Linked DNA regions of Homo sapiens. The protein of the gene in region 1 interacts with the protein of each later gene in a biochemical or structural test. Each region holds a gene or a part of one and is shown on either strand. Other genes may lie near its edges.

Evidence for each region. The genes of interacting proteins can lie anywhere in the genome.
Region 2: the proteins of LCAT (region 1) and A2M form a complex in vitro, tested with the Homo sapiens proteins (one study listed by BioGRID).
Region 3: the proteins of LCAT (region 1) and APOA1 form a complex in vitro, tested with the Homo sapiens proteins (6 studies listed by BioGRID and IntAct, with this or other methods).

What each region holds. Positions count from the first base shown.
Region 1 is NC_000016.10:67,941,119-67,948,385, forward strand, and holds the start of LCAT (phosphatidylcholine-sterol acyltransferase precursor), read right to left. Parts: upstream 3,003-7,267; 5' UTR 2,984-3,002; coding exon 2,830-2,983; exon of another isoform or gene 2,356-2,829; intron 2,095-2,355; coding exon 1,938-2,094; intron 1,859-1,937; coding exon 1,743-1,858; intron 1,649-1,742; coding exon 1,553-1,648; intron 1,470-1,552; coding exon 1,245-1,469; intron 1-1,244. Other genes in the region: SLC12A4 (solute carrier family 12 member 4), read right to left, coding at 3,722-3,813, 3,969-4,102, 4,251-4,435, 4,646-4,753, 4,833-4,964, 5,053-5,222, 5,320-5,515, 5,819-5,987 and 3 more. UniProt on the Homo sapiens protein: Central enzyme in the extracellular metabolism of plasma lipoproteins.
Region 2 is NC_000012.12:9,112,913-9,120,815, reverse strand, and holds the start of A2M (alpha-2-macroglobulin isoform a precursor), read left to right. Parts: upstream 1-4,896; 5' UTR 4,897-4,966; coding exon 4,967-5,052; intron 5,053-7,272; coding exon 7,273-7,456; intron 7,457-7,903. UniProt on the Homo sapiens protein: Is able to inhibit all four classes of proteinases by a unique 'trapping' mechanism. This protein has a peptide stretch, called the 'bait region' which contains specific cleavage sites for different proteinases.
Region 3 is NC_000011.10:116,835,244-116,842,469, forward strand, and holds APOA1 (apolipoprotein A-I isoform 1 preproprotein), read right to left. Parts: upstream 2,380-7,226; 5' UTR 2,362-2,379; exon of another isoform or gene 2,276-2,361; intron 2,165-2,275; 5' UTR 2,145-2,164; coding exon 2,102-2,144; intron 1,915-2,101; coding exon 1,758-1,914; intron 1,169-1,757; coding exon 565-1,168; 3' UTR 508-564; downstream 1-507. UniProt on the Homo sapiens protein: Participates in the reverse transport of cholesterol from tissues to the liver for excretion by promoting cholesterol efflux from tissues and by acting as a cofactor for the lecithin cholesterol acyltransferase (LCAT).

The DNA of each region.
Region 1 (7,267 bases):
CATGGGGAAACCTAATCTCTACTAAAAATATAAAAATTAGCCAGGCGTGGTGGCACATGCCTGTGATCCTAGCTACTAGGGAGGCTGAGGCAGAAGAATCACTTGAACTGGGGAGATGGAGGTTGCAGTGAGTGGAGATTGCACTACTGCACTCCAGCCTGGGAAACAGAGCGAGACTCCATCTCAAAATACATAAATAAACAAATAAACATTTTTTAAAAGGCCCAGCACAGTAGCTCACGCCTGTAATCCCAGCACTTCGGGAGGCTGAGGCAGGAAGATCACTTAAGGTGAAGAGTTTGAGACCAGCCTGGGCAACATAGCAAGACCTCATCTCTACTAAAAAACAAAAATAAATTAGGTGTGGTGTTGTGTGCCTATAGTCTCAGCTAACCAGGAGGCTGAGGCAGGAGGATTGCTTGGGCCAGGGAGATTGAGACTGCGGCTATGATCACGCCACTGCACTCCAGCCTGGGCGACAGAATGACCCTGTCTGAAAAAGAAAAAAAAAAGTAGGCGGGGCTTCCTGAGGACCAGGGTGTGTGGGGATGGTGGGTGAGGCCCAGGATGTGTGGGGATGGTGGGGGCGGTGCTGGCTGTCCTCCCTCGGGCATGTGTCTTTCTGCTCCTTGTGTGGCTTATGCAGCAATGGGGGCCACAGAGTTGTGCTCCAGAAAGGGGGAAACAAGATGGTGTCTGTTTGATGTTTATTGGTGGTGTCTGATGAGCGTTTCTCTTGTCCAGACTGTGTTTCTCTCTCCAGACCAGCTCCCAGGGTACAGGGGGTGGGGAGTAGGTGGTAGCTGTGTCAGTGCTGGGCCCTGGTGCCACTCCCTAGGGAAGAGCAGGTGGGGCCTCGGGGGGTCTGGCCCTAGCTCTGGCAGATCCATCCTCAGTGAAGCACATCCCTGGGCAAAGGCACTCCTGCGAGCAAGTGGAAGGCAGGCAAGGGCTGGGCAGGCAGGCTCTGGGGCTACAAGAACAAACCCTGGGAGCAGATAGCTGGGATTCACTTTCTGTGTTCACTGCCCCTTTGCCATCACTGACACAGACTCTGGAAGGAGCCACCCTAATTGCTCAGGCCAGGGTCACTGCTCTGGGGGCCAGTGACAGCAAGCATGCCAGCCCAGGAGTGGTAGATAGCACCCCTAGAGGCCACTGTGAGCAGGAGCCGCAATGAAGGCAGGCCCAGGATCAGCTTGGTCTCACCCATCGCTGGACCTAAGTGTTCGAGGCCTTCTCACCTGAGGCCAAGACCAGCATGGGCTTGATGGAGCCACCCCAGGGAGCCCCAAGAGAGATGAAGCCATCAATAAAGCGGTCCTTCCAGGCCTGGGGCTGGCGCAGCAGGAAATAGAGCAAGTGTAGACAGCCGAGGCTGTGGCCAATGAGGAAGACAGGCTTCCCATAGGCAGCGTGCATCTCCTCCACCAGCCCTGCGAGCTTGCGGTAGTACTCCTCCTGCTGGCCTGCAGCGGGTGGAAGGGGTCAGGGCAGCTGGGGTCTGGGGCACCTGCCCCACCCCAAGCCGGTCATCCGCAGAGACACTCACCGGGCTCCAGCCGCCAGTCATAGGGGGCGGCGCGCACAGTCTCGTCCCGCACGTAGCCATTGTTGACCAGGTTCTGCACCAGTGTGTGCAGGTACCCTGTGGGGGGACCAGCAGCACCGGGGGCTTGGGCCATGCCTGCTGTGGGCCAGCACCCAGGCCTGGAGCCCCAGCCCTGCCCTCTGACACAAACCTGCCAGCTTGCTGCTGTCCAGGTACTCCACAGAGTAGGTCTTGCCAAAGCCAGGGACGCGGATCTGGACACCAGGGGCGTTGGACACGAGCCCAGAGCTCCGGTTGTAGACAACCCTGCGGGGCGGGGGTGCCACTCAGCAGCCAGTAGCCAAGGGGCAGCGTGTTGGGGCTAGGGTGGAGCACATGGCTGTACCTGGTGTTATCGATCCAGCAGTCTACCCCAAGGGGTAGGAACATGTTGAGATCCAGCCAGATGGTGAAGAAGTCCTCTGTCTTGCGGTAGCACATCCAGTTCACCACATCTGGTTTGTCCAGCTTGGCTTCTAGCTGATTCCCCAGGCAGCCGGGCACTGTGAGCAGCAGCCCTCACTCTGGACTCTGGATTCCCCCCGTGACCCTTACCCCCGTCACCCCAGATGCTGCAGTGACCAGACCCACCCCCCACCTCCCATACCCTCAACCCCCAGGTACAAAGCACACTTACCCTCCCCTGCTTACACCCCCTCTCCCTGCTGTCCCCCCAGTAGCCAAAGCCCAGGCTTCCCTGAGGAAGGGAAGGCGCTGAGGTGCTGAGGCCAAGGCCGCTGACCCCTGCCTCTGCAGAGCAAACACCCAGTCTGGCGCTCCTTTATTGCCAAAGTCCAAGGTGGGAACAGATAGGTCTGGGGGCATGGGGGCTGGGCCTAATAGGGGCCGGGCATGGATGGGCCTCTCCTGCTCACCGATCCTGGGCTGGGCATCTTGTCCTTGGTGGGTGGGGGCCAAGGAAGGAGTGGTGGGGCTTGGCCCAGAGTCTGGTGTGGCTGTGACTGACCACAGCTTGTGATGCCCCAGCCAAGACCTCAGGCACACCCCGTCCCCCACTCCGCCCCCCCTGGGTTAGACAACTGAGAGTCACAGTGTGGTGGGAGAAGGGACGTCATTCCTCTAAGGGACAAGCTTTTGGCCCCTCCCCACACCAGGGCAGGTACTTATGTCGGGGCTTATGCAGGGCAGAAGGGCTTTGGCCAGGTCAGCTGCCAGGGGCTGGGGCCCAGGCTCCCCAGGGTCTGGCGTGGTGCATCAGGGGCCTGGTGGGGGCTTACCGAGGATGACGGGCCGTGTGTGGTTACTGAGCTCAGCCTTGGGCGTGGTGTGCGGGGGGAAGAGCACATTGAGGAGCCAGAAGGGGGCGGCAGGAGGGAGCAGCAGCCCCAGCAGCAGCGTCACCCACTGCCATGGGGAGCCGGGCGGCCCCATTCCAGCCCTGGTGCCTACTGCCAGAGAAAGCGGCACTGGGCTGTCCTTATCTGGTGTGGGAGTGGGAGGGGCCCTAGGGCCAGTGGGAGGGACGGCCTGGCCAGTGGGGGTTGTGGCCAGAGATTGCCGGAAAGGGGCACAGCCTCAGGGAGCCGGCTCTGGGCCTGGGTTCAGTTCCGCCTTCTTCTCTTGGCGCCAGGGGAAACAGAGCCGGGGCAGCAGGAGGCCCAGAACTACACAATGTTTTATTGAAAAAGTCAGGCCTCAGCTCAGCTGTCTCCATTCGGCTCAGCTTGGTGGGGGGCCCTGCCCATAGTAGACTGAGCCAGATCTTCCTGCAGGCAGCTGGGCTGGACTCCCTCCCTGGCTACCCTTCCCTTCGTCTCTGATGGTGACATCCAAACAATAAATATGCAATAAATAGCGCTCCTGGGCTGGGCCGGGCCGGCTGCCTTCAAACCCCACTCGGCCCCTACCAGTCTTCTCTGGCCAGGACAGGCCTACTGGGGTGCTAGATAGTAAAGTCCCCAAACATCCCAGGGTCCCACAAGACCTGGGATCCATCTCCATTTTGAGGCCCAGGCCTGGTTTCCAAGGAGACCTAGCAAAGCTGGGTCCAGGACAGGGCCAGGCAAGCAGGGCTGGCAGGTGGGTGCTGGGAAGAGGCTGTTACCCCAGACCACAGCTTGTTATGTCCTGGCCAAGACCTCGACTCCAGGCCACAAGATGACACTGGGCTCAGGAGTAGATGGTGATGACTTCACGGCCACCACCGCGCACCAACAGCACCCGCTCAAGGCCCTCGGTCAGCACCTCGAGGAACTCCATGTCTGCAGGGCCTCAAGTCAAGGAGGCAACAACAGAATCAACGGGCAACCCGGGCCACCTGGGCCATGCCCACCCAGGGGTGCCCAGGAGAGAAGCCGCTGGCTTGACCTCCCATGCTATCCACCTCCCAACTGCCTGCCTCTCCACAAAGGGATACAGTTCTCGTCGCCCTCACTGTTCCTGGGTGGGCCAGGCATGTTTAGGAGAACCAGGCGGGCGTCGTGGGAGCGCGTGACAATGACTTCATTGAGCTTCACAGCAGTGTGCATGCGCCGCACATTGGATTGGTCCCTACACGTAGTGTAGCCAGTCACAGGTCGCCATGAGCCATCCTGCAAGGAGGGTCCCCACCCCTGGCCCATCTAACACTACTTGTCTGCCCCACCCCACCTCCACCCCTAGATTCCAGTGCCGCTGGGGCTGTTTTTGCTGCACTCACGGCTTAATGTGCACCAGCTCCCGGAAATTGTCAGGGGCATGGCTGGGGTCCCAGGTCTCAGTCATGTACTTGTCCCTGGTCCACGTCATCTGGATCTTGTCAGCCCCCACTGCAGACTCATCTTCCTCGTCCGAGTACAGGCTCTCCAGCCGCAGGGCCGAGTGCCGATCCTTGACCAGCTGGGCCTGAGGACAATTGCAGGAGATAGCCTTGGTCCCATAGGAAAAGGGGGATGGGGCCTGTCTGGCCCAATGTGACCACCTTGCCTCCGGGAAATGAGCACTAGCTTGGGTAGGGCTGCGGTGAGTCATTCTGATTCCTCCGCACCCACCGATGCGGTCTCCAAAGGCCTGACCCTGCCACCCGCCCTGGCGTGAACCACAAAGGGCACTGACTTCTCGCTCCCGCTCAGTCTTGGTCAGTCTCATCTGCCGCAGCATCTGCGACCGCTGCTCCATCATCAGCGTCCGCTCGTAGGTGTATGCAGAGATGTCACTGTTATGCTGGGGACAGGGTTGGCCGTGAGGACCCAGCTGCACGGGACATGGTATCCACGGGGCCAGGGCAGGGCAGAGGGCTCACCATCTCCACCACCTCCACCTCGGCCTCAAGGCGCAGATGGTACAGAAAGACAGCCAGGTCCTTCTTCATCTGGATGCTGTTGTCATCCATCTGGGCCACTGTGAAGATGCGCATCCGGCACTTCCTCCAGACCTGAGGCAAGGGACCAGGTGGGCGGTTTGGTCACAGCTGCTCCTCCAAGGGCCTAGCCCCTCTCATCTGCACCCACCCCCTGGTCTACCTTATGCTGGCGCAGCAGGAAGGGCAGAAGCATGAGCATGCCACCATCGTGCACGATCCACCACACGTCTATGTGGCCCTCCAGGTAGCGCTCGTGGTTGCTGGGGTAGAAGGCGATGTTCTTGGGCACGAGCAGGGCCAGGTGGGCAGCCGTAGTGCAGCGCACGGTGTCTGGGGAGGAGGAGCACGGCTGACCACCAGTCTGTGGCCCTCCGCCCACTGCCACCTCACTTCACCCCTGCCCACCAGGCCCCAGGCCTTCACACACCAATGAAGGTCTTCCAGGCACGGGGGTCCTCGCTCTGTCGCCAGCCGTAGGGCCAGCCCAGCACCACGGAGTTATGCCGCATGCCTCCCAGGCCACAGGACTGGATGAGGTGGGCCAGCCCCTCCCGCACCTTGCTGGCCACCACCACCTGGCAGAAGCCCTTCACCTTCTCAATTTCCATCATGTTCTTGATGGTCTGTGGGGAACACACCCAGGGCCAATGGGAGGCCATCAGCTTCCTGCCTCTGGGCTCCCTCCCAAGGCCCCTCGGGAACAAAACGACTTTTGGGTGGAGGAGGGCCTGGGGGCAACAAGCTGCCTACCCAGAGGCCAAGTTTTCAAGATGGGACTGCTGGCTCCCCCTTGTGCCAGCTCTCAGGTGGCAGCAGTGCTGGCTGCCTGGCTGGCCACCCTGGCCAAGACTGGGCCCTCCCCTCCGTGCCAGCTGCAGTCCAGACCCCTGTAGTCTGGCTCAGCTCTCCCTCCCCAAAGCAAGTACCTGCTCGGCGGCCTGAGCCTCGCCATAGCTCTCCAAGAAGCTCCCCTGGATGACAGAACCAACAATGGTCAGGCCCTTGCCAGCCTTGAGCTGGGAGGCGAAGGTGAGGAGCCGCGGGTACTTCACGTGGAGGTCCTCGTCCAGCTTCAGCAGCACCAGCAGCTGCGGCCTGCAGTGGCCGGGTGGGGGGAGCCTGAGACCAGGGCCGGCCGTTCTAGGGAGCCCCTCCTCTTCTTCCCTTCTCGGGTCGTGGTCCCTGCAGGTTTGGGTAGCATGGCCCAGGAGGGTGCCCCGGGCAGCCCCAGGATGGGGAGCCGGCACCTCTCGACCCTCTGACCCCGACAGCGACCCCTAAGAACCTCTGCGCCCTGGCCAGGGTCTGGCGGGAACTCACCGCCAGTTCTTGGTGTGAGGAGGCCCCTCCTCCAGCCGCAACAGCGCGTAGCGGGCAGCGCTCAGGGACAGGCCTCGGATCCCGTCACCCCACTCCTTCTCAGCCCTGCAGATTCCACCACAGCTGGTGAGCCCCTGGTGCCGCCCAGGGGGTTCTGTCTATGTGGATGCGAGGTGGAGGGGTTCTGCCCCTCAAGACCACCCAGGGGTCCTGAGTTACAGTCCCCAGTCCTGGCACCCACGGTGGCCCAGCTCCCTGCCCACCCCAATGCCAGACCACCCTGCCTGCTCGGCCGGGCCCCCTCAGCTGGCAGAGGCCAGGTGGCAGTGCTCACTCACCCTTGGTACTCGATGTATTTGTAGATCATGCCGGCGATGAGCATGGCCACCAGGGCATAGTACCAGGAGGAGACAAACATAAGGGCCAGGCAGAGACTCATGCCCAGGAAGGACAGCGCCCTGGACGAGAGGGGAGGGCAGAGTCAGGGCAGGACCAGGAGGACCCCTGGCCACAGCCTGGCCCATGCCCTGGTAGCCCTGTCAGGTCCCGGGTGGGAGGTCCCAGGTGGGTGGTCAGGTCACTGGGTGTAAGACCTAGGTCCAGTCCCCCGCAGCCCTATAATCTCCCTCCCCACAGTGTTTCAAGAGCTCCCTACCCAGGAAACCCAAGCCTCACCCAGAATGAGGCTCCTGGCCTCCCCAGGGTCTCCCGTGTCAGAGGCATGGCTCACCAGTGATAGTACTTGAACCGGGGCCGCCAGTTGGGGGTCCTCAGGAGTGTCTGCACCGCACAGGCGAGGTTCACGAACAGGTAGCACATCAGAAAGAACCTGCGGCACAGAGGGCGGTTGGCGAAGAGCAGCCTCCTCGGCAGCTGGGGACCTGATGTCAGGCTGGGCCTGGCCCAGAAACGGGGCGTGGCCCGGCCCTGCCCTGCATGGCTCAGCAAGGTCTTCTCAACCTCATTGCTGCCACCTCCATGGCCTGAGGCAATGAGACTACTGTGGAGGAGTCCTCGGAGCCAGATCGCAGAGGATGGGCAAGGGTTTGCTGTTG
Region 2 (7,903 bases), on another chromosome or scaffold:
TTGATCACTGAGTACATCTCTGTAGATATATATTTCCTTCACTGCAGATTTTGCCCAAGATACTTCGTCAAAGACAAAGCCAGTACACCCTCTAATAGGGTGAATATGGTTATGCCACCTACTGAGCTTGTTTTTGATACTAGTTAATATGTAACCAGATGAAATTGTCATTATCGTCACTGTCAGGACTATGGGAAGCTTAAGTGTTCTCTTTTCAAGGACAATGTGCGCTAACTGTACAATTGGTACAATTAAATAAGTTATATTCAGTTCCTGGGAAGCACTATAGCAATACAAGGAGAAAATTTGATTCTATTTATTTTTGTTAAGGCCCACCTACCTCCTAATCCTAATTTCTCTCATTTCCCAAATATTCCTTGTTTGTTCTTACTGTTATGTGTTTTCCTGTATTTTGCTCTTCTACTTTCTTTTCCATGGACTATCTTTTTCCCTTCCTTTTTTTCGCTCTACCCCTTTACCTCAGCTTTCTAGCAGTATTTGCTAAATACTTCAAAACTGTATAGAACTGGTTCAAATTGTGTGCTCCCTTTTCTGTCAAGAACTTGCTACTCAGGTAACCCAATTGGTGATTTTTCCTGGAAACACTGATGGATGCTGTTCCTATAGCGAAACCCAGAACAGAGATGAAATAGATGTCATCCTCAGCCATTAGCATTCAAACTATAAAAATTAATTTACACTGGTATAGTAAGGATCAGAATGTCAAAGCTGTGTTACACCTAGCATCTTGTATGAAACTACCCCATTAAGGTGAGACCACAGATATTATTGCCCCACTATTGGCATGAAAGCTGAGGCTCAGAGCAGTTAACTGAGTTACCCAGGACCACACAGCTAAGTTAGAAGTAGGGCTCAGGTGTCCTGGCAACTAACTGGTCCAGTTATTTTTTCTCTCAAGCTCGTTTTCCCTCTCCTAAAGAATAGGAGGCTCTGTCGTGGTGAAAGGCGATTTTAGTAATACTTTCCTTTTTATCTGTGATTATAATGAATGCGGCATCTCTCCCATTAAGGATCATTCCTCCACCCACATTCTTAATACATCTGCTGCATGCATCCTTCAGAGACCTCCCTCTGGGATCATCCCTTCTCACTCCAAAAAGCTCAACTTCTCCCCTGTCATTTGTACCTCCCACTCAGCATTTTTAGAAGCAATATTTCATTCAAACTTATTCAAGTTTATTTCCACCTAAAGAAATATTCCTTTCACCCTGGCATCTCCGTCAGGTACTGCTCTGTTGTTTTTCTCCCCTTCAGACAAACTGCCAAACTGGCTCTAGTTCCTCACATTCCCCATCACCCTCAGCAAGCTTCTGCCCCACACCGGCACTGAAACAGCTGAATCCCAATGTCCTTGTCCTTAAACCCAGCAGAAAAAAAAAATCAATCAATTATTTGATTTCACAGCGGCACTTGACATGGGTAGCCAGGAATTTATCAATGACAACCTTTACAGATCATCTTTGTAATTTATCATGAGGCATCAAATGAATGCTATTAACATTAATCCCTCCTATTTTAAGTCATTAATCCAAGTAAATGCTCACTTATTTCTAGCGTCTTAGAAACCATTTAAATTATGTTACATTATGAATCAATACATTATAAAATTATACCATCATTTGTAATAATTTTTTAAAATGTTGTGTGCTATTAACATTGATGCCTTGGTATAAAGTCATGATCATTCTGGTCTAGTAGCAATCTTCTATTGACTATTCTCTTACTAAAGCGGTCCCTTCCGTGGGACTCAGAGACCTCACACTCTCCTGCCTGTGTTTCTTCCTCTCTAATTGGCCCTTCTTGCTCCACTTGGGTGCTCCTGCCCATTGCCTAGACAAGAGCATTCCCTGTAACTCTGTCTTGGGCTCTTTTTCTCTTTTCATCAACATCTTCTACGTGGGTATTATCATCCATTTCCATGGCATCAGCTTGCCCAATAAACTGATAAATCCATAGTCTCTATAAGTACAGCAGATCTCATCAAGCTAGTGGCATTCAGACTGCTTTAACTTTAACCAAAAATAAGGGATTTTGTACATGTTCAATAAGCAGTTCCCACTGTGACACTGTAATCACATTTTCACAATTGTGACCTAGGACACTTAGAGTAAAGGATACAGATGATTGAGACAGAAATAGTGACAAAGAAAAATAAGGTTAGGATATAGATTTTAATGCTGTAACAGACCTCAAAATACAATGGCTTAACTAAGAGAATGCATTTCTCTGTCACATAAAGGTCCCAACTGGCGTAGACTTTTGATGACTCAAGGGCTCAGGCTGTGCCTGGTTTGTGGTTCTGCCTTCCTTAACACATGGCTTCCATCTGATGAGCTACAGCAGTACCTATCACTAGTCAGCATGTCCACATTCCAGCCTGGGCAAGGAAGAAAGGGGAAGCGCAGAACTGTACCCTTCCTTTTTTAAGTCATGAACTGAAAGTTGCATGTATCACTTCCACTTGCCCTCCAGTCACCAGAACTTAGTCATATGCCATACCCAGCTTCAAGGGAGTGGGTTAAAAACATAGAAGTCAACTAGGCAGTCTGCACCCAGCAAAGGATCGGGAGTTCTATTATTAAAGCAGAATTGGAGAAGTGGTAACAGGAAACAACCACCAGCCTCTGCTGCATGTATATGAAACAGATGTTTCCCAAATCACTATTCTCACTTATTCTGTCTGATACACTGTATTTTTTATTATATTCTCTTTCATTTTTTAAAATCCTGGTCATGACTCACAGGGCATGATGTTACAACCCACTTAGATGCTAACACCATAATCTGAAAAATATTACCTATATTATGTCTAATATTGGCCACTTGAAGTATGGCTAGCCTAAATTGATCTATGTTGTAAGTATAAAATTCACACCAGCTTGTGAAAACAAATTATGAAAAAAAAGTCTTTAAGATATCATTAACAATTTTATATTGGCTAAATGTTGAAATGATCATATTTTGGATATATTGGATTAAATAAAATACACTATTAAAATTAATTTAATGTTTCTCTTTATGTGGTTACTAGAAAATTTAAAATTTAAAATTACACAGGGCGATCACATTCTATTTCTAGTAGACCACACTGCTGTAAGCTCAAGATTCAAATGTCAAACTCCTGTGAATATTAATACGTGAATATCCCACAAGCACTTACTCCATCTTCCCAACCCTCAGCCCTTCTGTCCTCCTTCTGCTCCCACCAATCTGTGTTTCTTCTGTTTCACTCACCCAGCTAAAGGCAACACAATTCACTCCGTGACGAGCCAGGAAAATGGAAAGACACATTTTCCTTTATTCCTCACATTGATATATTCACTGAGCACTATAATTACCTCTTAAATATGATATAAATCTGCAAGCTCTTTTCAATACCACCACAAATTCCATAGTTCAAAATGCCATCAGCTTTCACCTATATTATTACACCAGCTCCCATCTGGTCTTCCTGCATCCTGGATCACCTCTTTCTAGCTGCCCTTTCAAATTTCAATAAGAGCAAGCTTTCCAGGAAACAAACCTGAAGTCAATCCACTGAGTACTCCTCTGAATACCTTAATATTGTTGACAAATTCCTTTCTGATTTGAAGTATCAGAAAGGAATATTTCCTCCATACCAAATAGTTTTCATTTCATGCATGTGCCGTGATTCTTCTCCCTCCTTTGCATCTGTCATTCGTTATGCTTAGAAAGCTCTTTTCATCTCTTTGTTCTTCGAGACAACCACTACTCATACTTCAGAGCTTAATTTACATTTTGCTTTCCCTCAAAATTTTTTTAAAAGGTTCCAGGTCTGGGTTATGTGCTCTCTTATGTGCTCCCAGAGCATCCTGAACTTCTGCAATAATATGTTTGGCTACTGTATTTTATACAGTAGTTTTATATTGTATTTTATACTGTATTTTATACAGTAGGTGTTATATTGTATTTTATACAGTAGTTGTTTTTCTGTCTGTTTTTGCCCCAACAAGAATGTAAAATCTTTAAGTGCCTGTTTTCATACTTATTTGACCACCCTATCTCTAGAATCTTGCATGATGTCTAGCCCTAGTAGGATCAAAAAATACTTACAAAGCAACTGAATAGCTACATGAATAGATGGATGAATAAATGCATGGGTGGATGGATGGATTAATGAAATCATTTATATGACTTAAAGTTTGCAGAGGAGTATCATATTTGGAAGGCAGTAAGGAAGTCTGTGTAGTCGATGGTAAAGGCAATTGGGAAGTTTGTTAGGCACAATAGGTCAAAATTTGTTTTTGAAGTCCTGTTACTTCACGTTTCTTTGTTTCACTTTCTTAAAACAGGAAACTCTTTTCTATGATCATTCTTCCAGGGCCTGGCTCTTCATCTGCAACCCAGTAATATCCCTAATGTCAAAAAGCTACTGGTTTAATTCGTGCCATTTTCAAAGAGGACTACTGAATTCTGATGTGGCTTCAAACATTTAGGTTAGGCATATCTAATGGAGAACTTGCAGCCACACTGACTTGTAGTGAAATATCTATTTTGAGCCTGCCCAGTGTTGCTTAAATTGTAGTTTTCCTTGCCAGCTATTCATACAAGAGATGTGAGAAGCACCATAAAAGGCGTTGTGAGGAGTTGTGGGGGAGTGAGGGAGAGAAGAGGTTGAAAAGCTTATTAGCTGCTGTACGGTAAAAGTGAGCTCTTACGGGAATGGGAATGTAGTTTTAGCCCTCCAGGGATTCTATTTAGCCCGCCAGGAATTAACCTTGACTATAAATAGGCCATCAATGACCTTTCCAGAGAATGTTCAGAGACCTCAACTTTGTTTAGAGATCTTGTGTGGGTGGAACTTCCTGTTTGCACACAGAGCAGCATAAAGCCCAGTTGCTTTGGGAAGTGTTTGGGACCAGATGGATTGTAGGGAGTAGGGTACAATACAGTCTGTTCTCCTCCAGCTCCTTCTTTCTGCAACATGGGGAAGAACAAACTCCTTCATCCAAGTCTGGTTCTTCTCCTCTTGGTCCTCCTGCCCACAGACGCCTCAGTCTCTGGAAAACCGTGAGTTCCACACAGAGAGCGTGAAGCATGAACCTAGAGTCCTTCATTTATTGCAGATTTTTCTTTATATCATTCCTTTTTCTTTCCTATGATACTGTCATCTTCTTATCTCTAAGATTCCTTCCAGATTTTACAAATCTAGTTTACTCATTACTTGCTTACTTTTAATCATTCTTCCCCAACTCTCTGAAGCTCTAATATGCAAAGCCTTCCTAAGGGGTGTCAGAAATTTTTAGCTTTTTAAAAGAATAAATTTTAGATATTCACATTCATATTGATCTACTTGAGACCATGCTATTTATCTTTTCTTATTTCCTCTTTCTCAAGGGTCCATTTTCTATTTTATAAAAATAAAGACAATTCTCTCCCACAACCAAACATGGAACAATGCCCTGGAGTATAAAAATCTATAGAGTGCCAAATAAAGGAACAATTTGAAATACTGGTGTTGATATTGAAAAAGCAAGGGACTCTAATGTCAGAAGAGAAATCCTTTTGCAGATGAGGTGGTGATGAATTCTTTGTTTCAACACAACTGAAGGAGGAACTGAAGGAAATACCAGCTGATGAGTGATGAGAAGGGATTCTTGATAATAGAGTACTAGGTGATTTTTGGCATGTAATGCAGAAGTTGCAAGAAGTGGTAACAATGATGCAATTGTTTTACCTGCCATTTATTTACTTTTATGTGAGCCATTCTTCTTAGCACTTATAGCTACACAAAACAAAAATAGTAACAGAATTAATGTTGTTTAATTCTTGCAATCCATGGATGCATAAATTCACTGGGGGAAAAAACAGCTCATCATTCTCATTAAAGATGTGCTTCAAAAGTATTTTAATTTTATATCTAATATGTATGAATCATACTTTGTATTTATTTTGTTTTGATCAGTTATATACAAGTATTTTTGAACATAGCTCAGTCAGAAGGAAATGTTTAATATTTATAAATTTATGGTTACATTCTATTTAAAAGAGGAGTTAAAGTTAAATTTACCTACCCACATATGTTACATATATATGTATTTATGTATATGTATTCATATATGTATATATGTGAACATAAGTATACATACGTATATGTATAGATGCTTGACAATAAAGAAGTAAGAATAATTCACAACATTTTTTGAAATATAAAAATTTAGGATAAATTTCTGTATGGTAATTGGCATGGAAATTCAAATTCAAAAAGGAAAAAAGAAGAGAAAGATATTAAATATCAGACCATTAAAAGAATTTTTTAATGTACTTTTAAATAGTGATAGTAGGTATCTTATACTACAGTGTTTATTATTCATGAGAAAATTGTAAAAGTAATCTAAGTATTAATTTAAAATATCATCAAAAATAATATCTTTTGCTATTACTTAAAATCATGATAAAAATATGTTTACTTGAAAATATGTAAGGAGTGCACAGAGTCCAAAAATTATTTTAGGAGTTCTGTGAGCAAAAATGTATAAAAACTACAGGGTTGATCTTAAATTACATGTCAGGGTACTGAGAAAGTTTCTGTACTGCACATGAGTTACCAAGGTCTAAAGTCAATCACCAGAGGACCATTTTTGGATGGAGCCATTGTCTAATCATGAGCTGAAAGGCAAATATTTAAAATGCAAACATCCATGGTTAGGTAACACTCTTAAGACCTTATTAGCTGCTTACCACAACTGAGACTGTGAAGTAATGGCTCACTTTCTTTGAGGCTCAGATTCCATATCTGTGGAGTGGAAGCGAGTGCTTACCATACAATTTTCACAGGGCTGCTGAATGTGTGTATGTATGTATGTGTGTATATATATTTTAATGAAAATTCTATAATTTGATTAGTTTTTGTAATGTCCGCATGACTGAGAGCTTGCTTACTTTTTACAGCAACTTGAAGGTAAAAATAGATTTTACAACATGAACAAATGTAACTACATATTTTTATTTGAATTCAGATGTTCACAAATTGTTCCTTAAAGTGAAGCATGCCTACAAGTTTTAATCTGTTTAAGACCTACCTCAAGTAAAATGTTCACTGCCATGGCATGTGAGGGAAAAGGGAAATAATTCTTATGCATGGCCTTCAACGGCCAAATTTCATGCTCATCAGTACATCTTCTCTTGGTGTAGAACTGATGATGATAATTATGATGATGGAAAAAAGTGCTGTTGATAGCAATGCCTCTCTTCCTTCACTTTCCTCTAACTGAACCGTCTCATTCCCAGGCAGTATATGGTTCTGGTCCCCTCCCTGCTCCACACTGAGACCACTGAGAAGGGCTGTGTCCTTCTGAGCTACCTGAATGAGACAGTGACTGTAAGTGCTTCCTTGGAGTCTGTCAGGGGAAACAGGAGCCTCTTCACTGACCTGGAGGCGGAGAATGACGTACTCCACTGTGTCGCCTTCGCTGTGAGTGTGGCTGTTTGACTTAATATACTTGGTTCTTTTAGTCAGGGTCATAGGGATCTAGTATTCTGTCAGATGAGGCTTTGGGAGGTTGGTAAGAACTGCAGGAAGGAATCCAAATGTAGCAAACTAAGTATAGAAATTAAGGAGCAATGCATGACTCTCCAGCCATGGGAGACAAATATTTACAGGCAAACTAAAAGTCAGCTTAATAATCACATAGAAACCCTATTAGCCAGAAAGGAAAAAAAAAAAAAGAAAATGTGACTTCTTAAAATTAAGATGGAAAAAATATTAATAAAGCAAACTAGACCAAGGCTCAACATGAGCCACCCGTGGTGGACTGACAGGAACACATCACTCCACACTACTTCTAAGAGTAAAAATTGTAGAAATTACCCTGAGCAAAGGTGTAATATCTCTTCAGAGTTGTCCACATGTGAGATGCTT
Region 3 (7,226 bases), on another chromosome or scaffold:
AGGACAGGCGCAAACTCCAAGCGCTTCACTTGCACCCGGGACCAAACCCCAATCCCAGTGGCTGGCTCCCTGAGGCCGCCCCGCTCCGTCCCGCCCCGCTGACAGCGGCTGGGCTGGAGAAGGCTCTATACGGACACACCTCTGGGGACGGGGAACCCACTGCTCCCAGCTAAAGCAACCCTGTTTCCTGGCCCGCCTCAGACAGGGCTGCAGGCCTTGTTTGAGCCCCTTTCAGGGCACCTGGCCTTGGATTGTCTGTGGCTTTGCCTGGTCCGCTGTGACTTCCTTTCTACTTGAGCCTTGCTAAGGCAGACTCTACTCCCTCACTCGTAAGCAGCCAGGCGTCCAGCAGGTCCTCCAACGTCGATCTTGGCCCTAAGACGTCCAGTCTGGGCACGGAGTTGTTGAGATCCGGCAGGAAGTCCCTGCTCCAGGGCCAAAGGCCCCACCCGGGCTCCCCCGGATGTCCCCGCACCCCCCTCTATTCTCCCAAAAGAAAGAAGCTGCTTCCCACTTTGGAAACGTTTATTCTGAGCACCGGGAAGGGGGGCGGCGGCGGGCGCCTCACTGGGTGTTGAGCTTCTTAGTGTACTCCTCGAGAGCGCTCAGGAAGCTGACCTTGAAGCTCTCCAGCACGGGCAGCAGGCCTTGGCGGAGGTCCTCGAGCGCGGGCTTGGCCTTCTCGCTGAGCGTGCTCAGATGCTCGGTGGCCTTGGCGTGGTACTCGGCCAGTCTGGCGCCGCCGTTCTCCTTGAGAGCCTCAAGGCGCGCGGCCAAGCGCTGGCGCAGCTCGTCGCTGTAGGGGGCCAGATGCGTGCGCAGCGCGTCCACATGGGCGCGCGCGCGGTCGCGCATCTCCTCGCCCAGTGGGCTCAGCTTCTCTTGCAGCTCGTGCAGCTTCTGGCGCGCGCCCTCTTGGAGCTCTGCGCGCAGCGGCTCCACCTTCTGGCGGTAGAGCTCCATCTCCTCCTGCCACTTCTTCTGGAAGTCGTCCAGGTAGGGCTGCACCTTGGCCTTCACCTCCTCCAGATCCTTGCTCATCTCCTGCCTCAGGCCCTCTGTCTCCTTTTCCAGGTTATCCCAGAACTCCTGGGTCACAGGGCCGAGCTGTTCGCGCAGCTTGCTGAAGGTGGAGGTCACGCTGTCCCAGTTGTCAAGGAGCTTTAGGCTGGAGGGTGAGACAGAAGGGTTGAGGGCTGGCCTCCCAGCGCCCCAGCCTATCAGGGGTGAGCCCTGGGTGACACCTGTCCGCGGAGGTGCAGTGGCCTAGCATTTCCAGTACACTCTCAACCAACACCCCTGCCCCGCCAGGCCATGCCCCGTTGTGCAGCTGGACCGAGGCACAGAGAGGAGCTAAAAAGGAGACAGAGCTGGGACTAGTGCCCAGTTACGTTGGTCTCCAAAGTGGGCCCTTGAAGGACCTCGCTTCTATGCCTCCAGCGCATTCTCCTCTCCGAAGACAGCCCACAGTCTTGCTGGGCAGGAGCAGAGGAGGTGGTGAAGAAGGGAAAGGGGCTTGCTACACTTGCAGGCACAATGTGGCTCTGTGATCACGCATCGGGCAGCCCTGGTCTGTCCTTTGCAGGGGACATGGGCTGTGACCCTGCCTGGAGATCCCATTCCAGTTTCTCCATCCAGACCATCTGTGGGGCCCAGCTCATCAGATATTAGGTGAGGACTCGGCCAGTCTGGCTTCAACATCATCCCACAGGCCTCTGCCCCCTACCCCTGCCCTCAACCCCAGGCTGGGTCCTTACTTTAGCTGTTTTCCCAAGGCGGAGCCTTCAAACTGGGACACATAGTCTCTGCCGCTGTCTTTGAGCACATCCACGTACACAGTGGCCAGGTCCTTCACTCGATCCCAGGGGCTCTGGGGGGGTTCATCTTGCTGCCAGAAATGCCGAGCCTGGCTCCCTGAGGGTGGGAGGGGAGACCCAGATCAGGCCAGCTGTGGGCTGAGATCTGAGCCGAAAGGCCAAGCTTGGAGGTGGGGGAGAGGGGGCCAGTGAGAAACCTGCTGCCTCTGCCCAGGAGGGTGGGCCACGGGGATTTAGGGAGAAAGCCCCCCGATGGTTGGCTCCCTAGGTTAGGGGACACCTACCCGTCAGGAAGAGCACGGCCAAGGTCAGCACCGCAGCTTTCATCCTGAAGGGCCGTGGGGGACCTGGAGGAGAAGAAGGGCCTGGCTGAGTGGGGTGCCTTCAGCATGCAGAAGCCCCGTGCTCCCCCACTCATTGCAGCCAGGTGAGGAGAAGGGCACAGAGCGGGAGAAGACCTCAGGTACCCAGAGGCCCGGCCTGGGGCAAGGCCTGAACCTTGAGCTGGGGAGCCAGAGTGACCGGGGCAGGCAGCAGGACGCACCTCCTTCTCGCAGTCTCTAAGCAGCCAGCTCTTGCAGGGCCTATTTATGTCTGCAGCCAGGGTCTGGGCTGGGAGGCTGATAAGCCCAGCCCCGGCCCTGTTGCTGCTCACTGGTCCTGGCAATGTGGAACTTAAGAGTTCAAGGATCAGCTCTGTCCCTGGGGCTGGGCAAATAGAGTGGGCAAACAGCAAGCTGCGGGGGCTGCAGGGCAGGGGTCAAGGGTTCAGTGGGGGCGGGAGGGGAGTGTCTGCAGGCTTGCAGGTCTCCCGGGTGGGGTCGGGGTTCCCTGCACTCATCCCCTTCCCCTCCATGGGAGTGTGTGGGCAGTTGCCATTGTCCATTGTGTTGGCAGAGGAGGGGAGGGGAGGGACGCTGGGACTCCTCCACCAAGGAGACTGCCTCCCCCACCACCAGCATTCCAGGGAGACTACTTCACTCCCCTCCCCCTTCCCCCGCCCTGTCCTCCCACCAGTGCTCTTCTTTAGTCCCCAGCAGGTCCTCCAGGCCTCTCTCCAAGCCTCCCAAACTGGTAAACCTGGGGAGAGGGGAGAGCCCTCCGTGGCTCCCAGACTGAGGTTTCGGAGACCTCTTGCATTTCAAAACACTCCAGAGATCAATTCGGAGCTGCCAACTTTTAATTTTGTCATGTAAAGATATTGTCCGCCTCCAAAAAACCCTCACCATCTACAGTGACCATCACTTCAAAAAGGAAAGGCTTTAACAAAAAAGGGCATAATCTCAGAATTACATTACAGAATTGAAGCCCCTTAGATTGAAGACGTCTCCCTTTGCATTGTTCACACTTATATTTGATCACGCACAGGTGTGACTGGATCTCAGCCCTTGGGAAGCCCTGGTGTGGGGAGAAGACCTCTGGGCAAAGGAAGTGGCAGGAGACCTGCTTTCTCATTTCACTTGGCCTCCATCTTGCTGGAGGAAGATCGTGGGCAAGTTATATAATCTCTCTGAGCCTCGGTTTTCTATCTGCAAAATGGGGCAAGAATGGTCAGGGTTGTTGGAGGCCCCTGAGACAGCCTGTGAATGTAAAGTGCTGTGTGTCCGTTGGTGTTTGCAGCACCATCTTGTCAGGTTTCTCCTGGAAGGCCCAGACCTCCCCCAGCAGGTTACTGATAGGACCTGAGTCCTAGAGCCTGTGATGCAGGCTGAGAGGAACTGTGACATCACTCCAGCCTCTCCCCATGCCACCATCTCACAGATGAAGAGACTGAAGAGCACAGAGGGACTTTGCCCAGAGGCTGTCATCTCTCAGGGAGTTAGAAGAAAGGCTGGACCTAGAACCCAGTCTCTGGACTTGGGATGCAGGGCAGAAATGTACCCTGTACCATCACTCCAGGAAACTCCCTAACACTAGAAACCAGGCTGACATCTCTGTTTACCAGATCAGGGAGTGGTCGGCCTCATGCCTTTCACTTCAGAGAAGATTCTGGAGCCAGAAAACCTCAAATCTAAGGGTCAGGCAGGTTCAAATCCAGCTGCCTGACCCTGGATGAGTTATGATACATCACCTCCCCACACATCAGTTTCTGATTGAAGATAATGATAGAATATGCCATCGCCCTGAGTTATGGCAGGGGTTACTGTGTGGCAAGCAGAATAACGCTCCCCAAAGATGTCCACAGCCTCATCCCTGGAACCTGTGGCTTTGCTACCTTCCATGGCAAAAAAAGATTTTGCTAGTGTGATTAAGGACCTGGAGATGGGGTGGTTGGCCTGGATTCTCCAGGTGGGCCCATTGTCATCACAGGGGTCCTTAATTATACAAGAGGGAGGCAGTGGCCTCAGAGTCAGAGAAAGAGATGTGAGGATGGCAGTGGAGATCAGACTCGTGACTGCTGGAAGGGGGCCATGAGCTGAGGGACATGAGCAACCCTTCCCTAGAAGCTGGAGAAGGCAAAGGATTTTTCCCTGCAGCCTCCAGGAGCACAGCTCTGCTGCCACCATGATTTTAGCCCAGTATGACCCATTTTGGACTTCTGTCCTCCATAACTGTAAGATAATAAATTTGTATCGTTTTAAGCATGAACTTTGAACATATATGCAAAACTGTTAGAAAGGTACCTAGCACTTAGTAAACAGTAACTATTCTGTTTTCTAGAATCCCAGTTTCTGGTAATGTATTCCCTTATTCCCACTACACTTGCTTTATCAGATCTGAGACCTCAGCTTCTGCAGCAGGCATGAAGGCAGCAGTCCCACATCTCTCTGCTTGTCCTTGACTTGCAGTTGCTGAGATATGGAACATCTTTTCTAGGACTGAAGTGGCCCCAGATGTCTATGGGACTGTGTAGACAGGGAGGTGGCCTTGGTGAGCCATCAGCCTGGGCTGCCTACTTGACCATCCCAGCTGTCTGTAGCTTTAGAAAGTGGGAAGGTGGCTGGTCCCCTGCTGGGACAGCTCACAGGTGTCTCGGGCCAAGAGAGCGTCTTTTCTTTTGGGGGGTAGAGTTTGTCCCAGTCAGCACATGGGGGAATCTCAGAAGCTTACTGGTTGGACTCCAAGATACTTGCCAGTGTTTCACCCTTCTCTTTGGTTTGTTACTAAAATGATTGTTATGGCTAAACCTAGTATTTAACATTTGCGCAGTTCTTTGTGGCCAAAGCACTTTCACAACTTAGAATATCCCTATAAGGCTGGAGGCCAGATTTTACCCTTGTGATTTTTGCCTGTGGGAAAACTGCAGCTCACAGCTGCCCTGCATCCTTCAGCGGTTACTATTTAGCGCTGGCAGGGGTGGGAATCGGGAGGCCTGGCTTCTAGTTCTTTGAGGGTGGCCTTGCACCCTTGCGGAGCCTGCAGCCTTTGCAGTCTGATCAGGGACTTCTCAGTTTCCTGGCTCAGGGACTGCGAGGCATCAGGATAGGGGGTGCTGTTGAACAGCATCTTACCAAGCAGGCAGTTTCCTTTTCTAAATATACTTATTCACCAGGGTGGCTACTCCATTTTATTGCAAGGTATTTGGCTTAAACTAGTCTAAGCCCCCTTTACTAATATTTTGGAAAGGAAGGAGGTCTTTCTGGACAGAGCTGATGGAAAAATACATAACAACAACAACGACAATAACAAACTGGGTTGATGACACACTCAGACTCAGGGTCCAGCCAGGCATTGTTCAAGGCACTCAGTGGCCACGGGTTGGACTGTTTGGTGGCTGCGGGGCCCACAGTGTAGGCCCCTGTTTCCACCCATTTCTTTCCCTCGTCTTGGGAGTCTCCAGAGCGACTGCTCCTGAACAGGGTTACCAAGTCCTGGCCCTGGATGCCCTGACATGTGTAGGAGTGTTGGCGGTGACCGCAAGAGTGGATTTTGCACAGAAAGATTAGCAACTCCTTTCACAATTTATGTCCAAACATACTGGTCCATCTGTATCGGGAGGACTCTGTCCCCTGCTAGGTCTGGCACATAACAGACACCTGCCAAACATCTGCTCAGTGAATGGCACTGGCACCCTAGAGGGAGGGTCACCAGCCTGGTCATAGGGAGGAGTGGGTCCTGGGAGGGGAGGCAGTCTCATACCAGCCCCTGCTCAGAACGTTTCTTCTGGGAGCACGTGGTATGAGCCAGAATGAGAGTTAGGGAGGGGAGGTGGTGACTGAGCAGGGGAGACAGGACCCCCACCCCCAGTAGTTCCTACTTTTGGCAATTTTGCTGCAGCTTTTGTGATAGAGCCCCAAGTTAGACCCTTGGGTGGGGCACCGTAGCCAGCTATGCAAGATTCTCTCCTGCCCTCCTGCTTGGAAAAGACTAAGGCCAGGACAGAGCTCATCTTTGATCAGCAGGAGGGAAGCACAGTAGCCCTCTGAGTTCTTGATCTTTGCAGTTGGGGTGGGGTGGGGGCTGGCACAAAGTCAGAAAGAAAACTGTGTAGAGCACGGTTTTCTGTCAACATGGCTCCTGTTTTCTGGAGCTAAGCTCTCCAGTCTGTATCCAGGAGCCAGTGCCCTGCTTCCTACAAAAGCTCACCCTACCTCTGGTCCAAAGGCACCCTGGCTGATTTTAGGAGGGAGTGGCACCTATTGCAACAGGTGCTACAATTTGCTGGAAGGCATCTGGGTATTATCACTGTTTGATTCTAGAGACTCACCTAGTCTTGCATGACAGCGTATACAGACTCAGAGGAGTTTTAGAAGGCCCTTCTTTTTTTTTTTTTTTTTTTTGAGACGGAGTCTCGCTCTGTCGCCCAGGCTGGAGTGCAGTGGCGGGATCTCGGCTCACTGCAAGCTCCGCCTCCCGGGTTCACGCCATTCTCCTGCCTCAGCCTCCCAAGTAGCTGGGACTACAGGCGCCCGCCACTACGCCCGGCTAATTTTTTGTATTTTTAGTAGAGACGGGGTTTCACCGTTTTAGCCGGGATGGTCTCGATCTCCTGACCTCGTGATCCACCCGCCTCGGCCTCCCAAAGTGCTGGGATTACAGGCGTGAGCCACCGCGCCCGGCCAGAAGGCCCTTCTTGAGAAGGCTCTTTTCTTCTCTAATCTAAATGGCCCTACAGCAACTTTCTAGCCGCCCTCATGGACTTGAAATCTTTCTTTTCTCTTTGCAGGAGTGCAGTGGTGCGATCACAGCTCACTGCAGCCTCAAACTCCTAGGCTCACATGATCCTTCAGCCTCAGCCTCCTGAGCAGCTGGGACTACAGGCATGTGCCACCAAGCCTGGTTATTTTTTGTAGAGGTGGGGGTCTTGCTATGTTGCCCAGGTTGGACTCCAACTCCTGGGTTTACCTAATTCTCCTGCCTCAGCCTCCTGAGCAGCTGGGATTACAGGCGCACGCCACCATGCCCAGCTTGGAAGGCTTTCTAAATTCCCTCCTCTCATTCTTCCTTCTGTGAACTCAGATGGTCTTT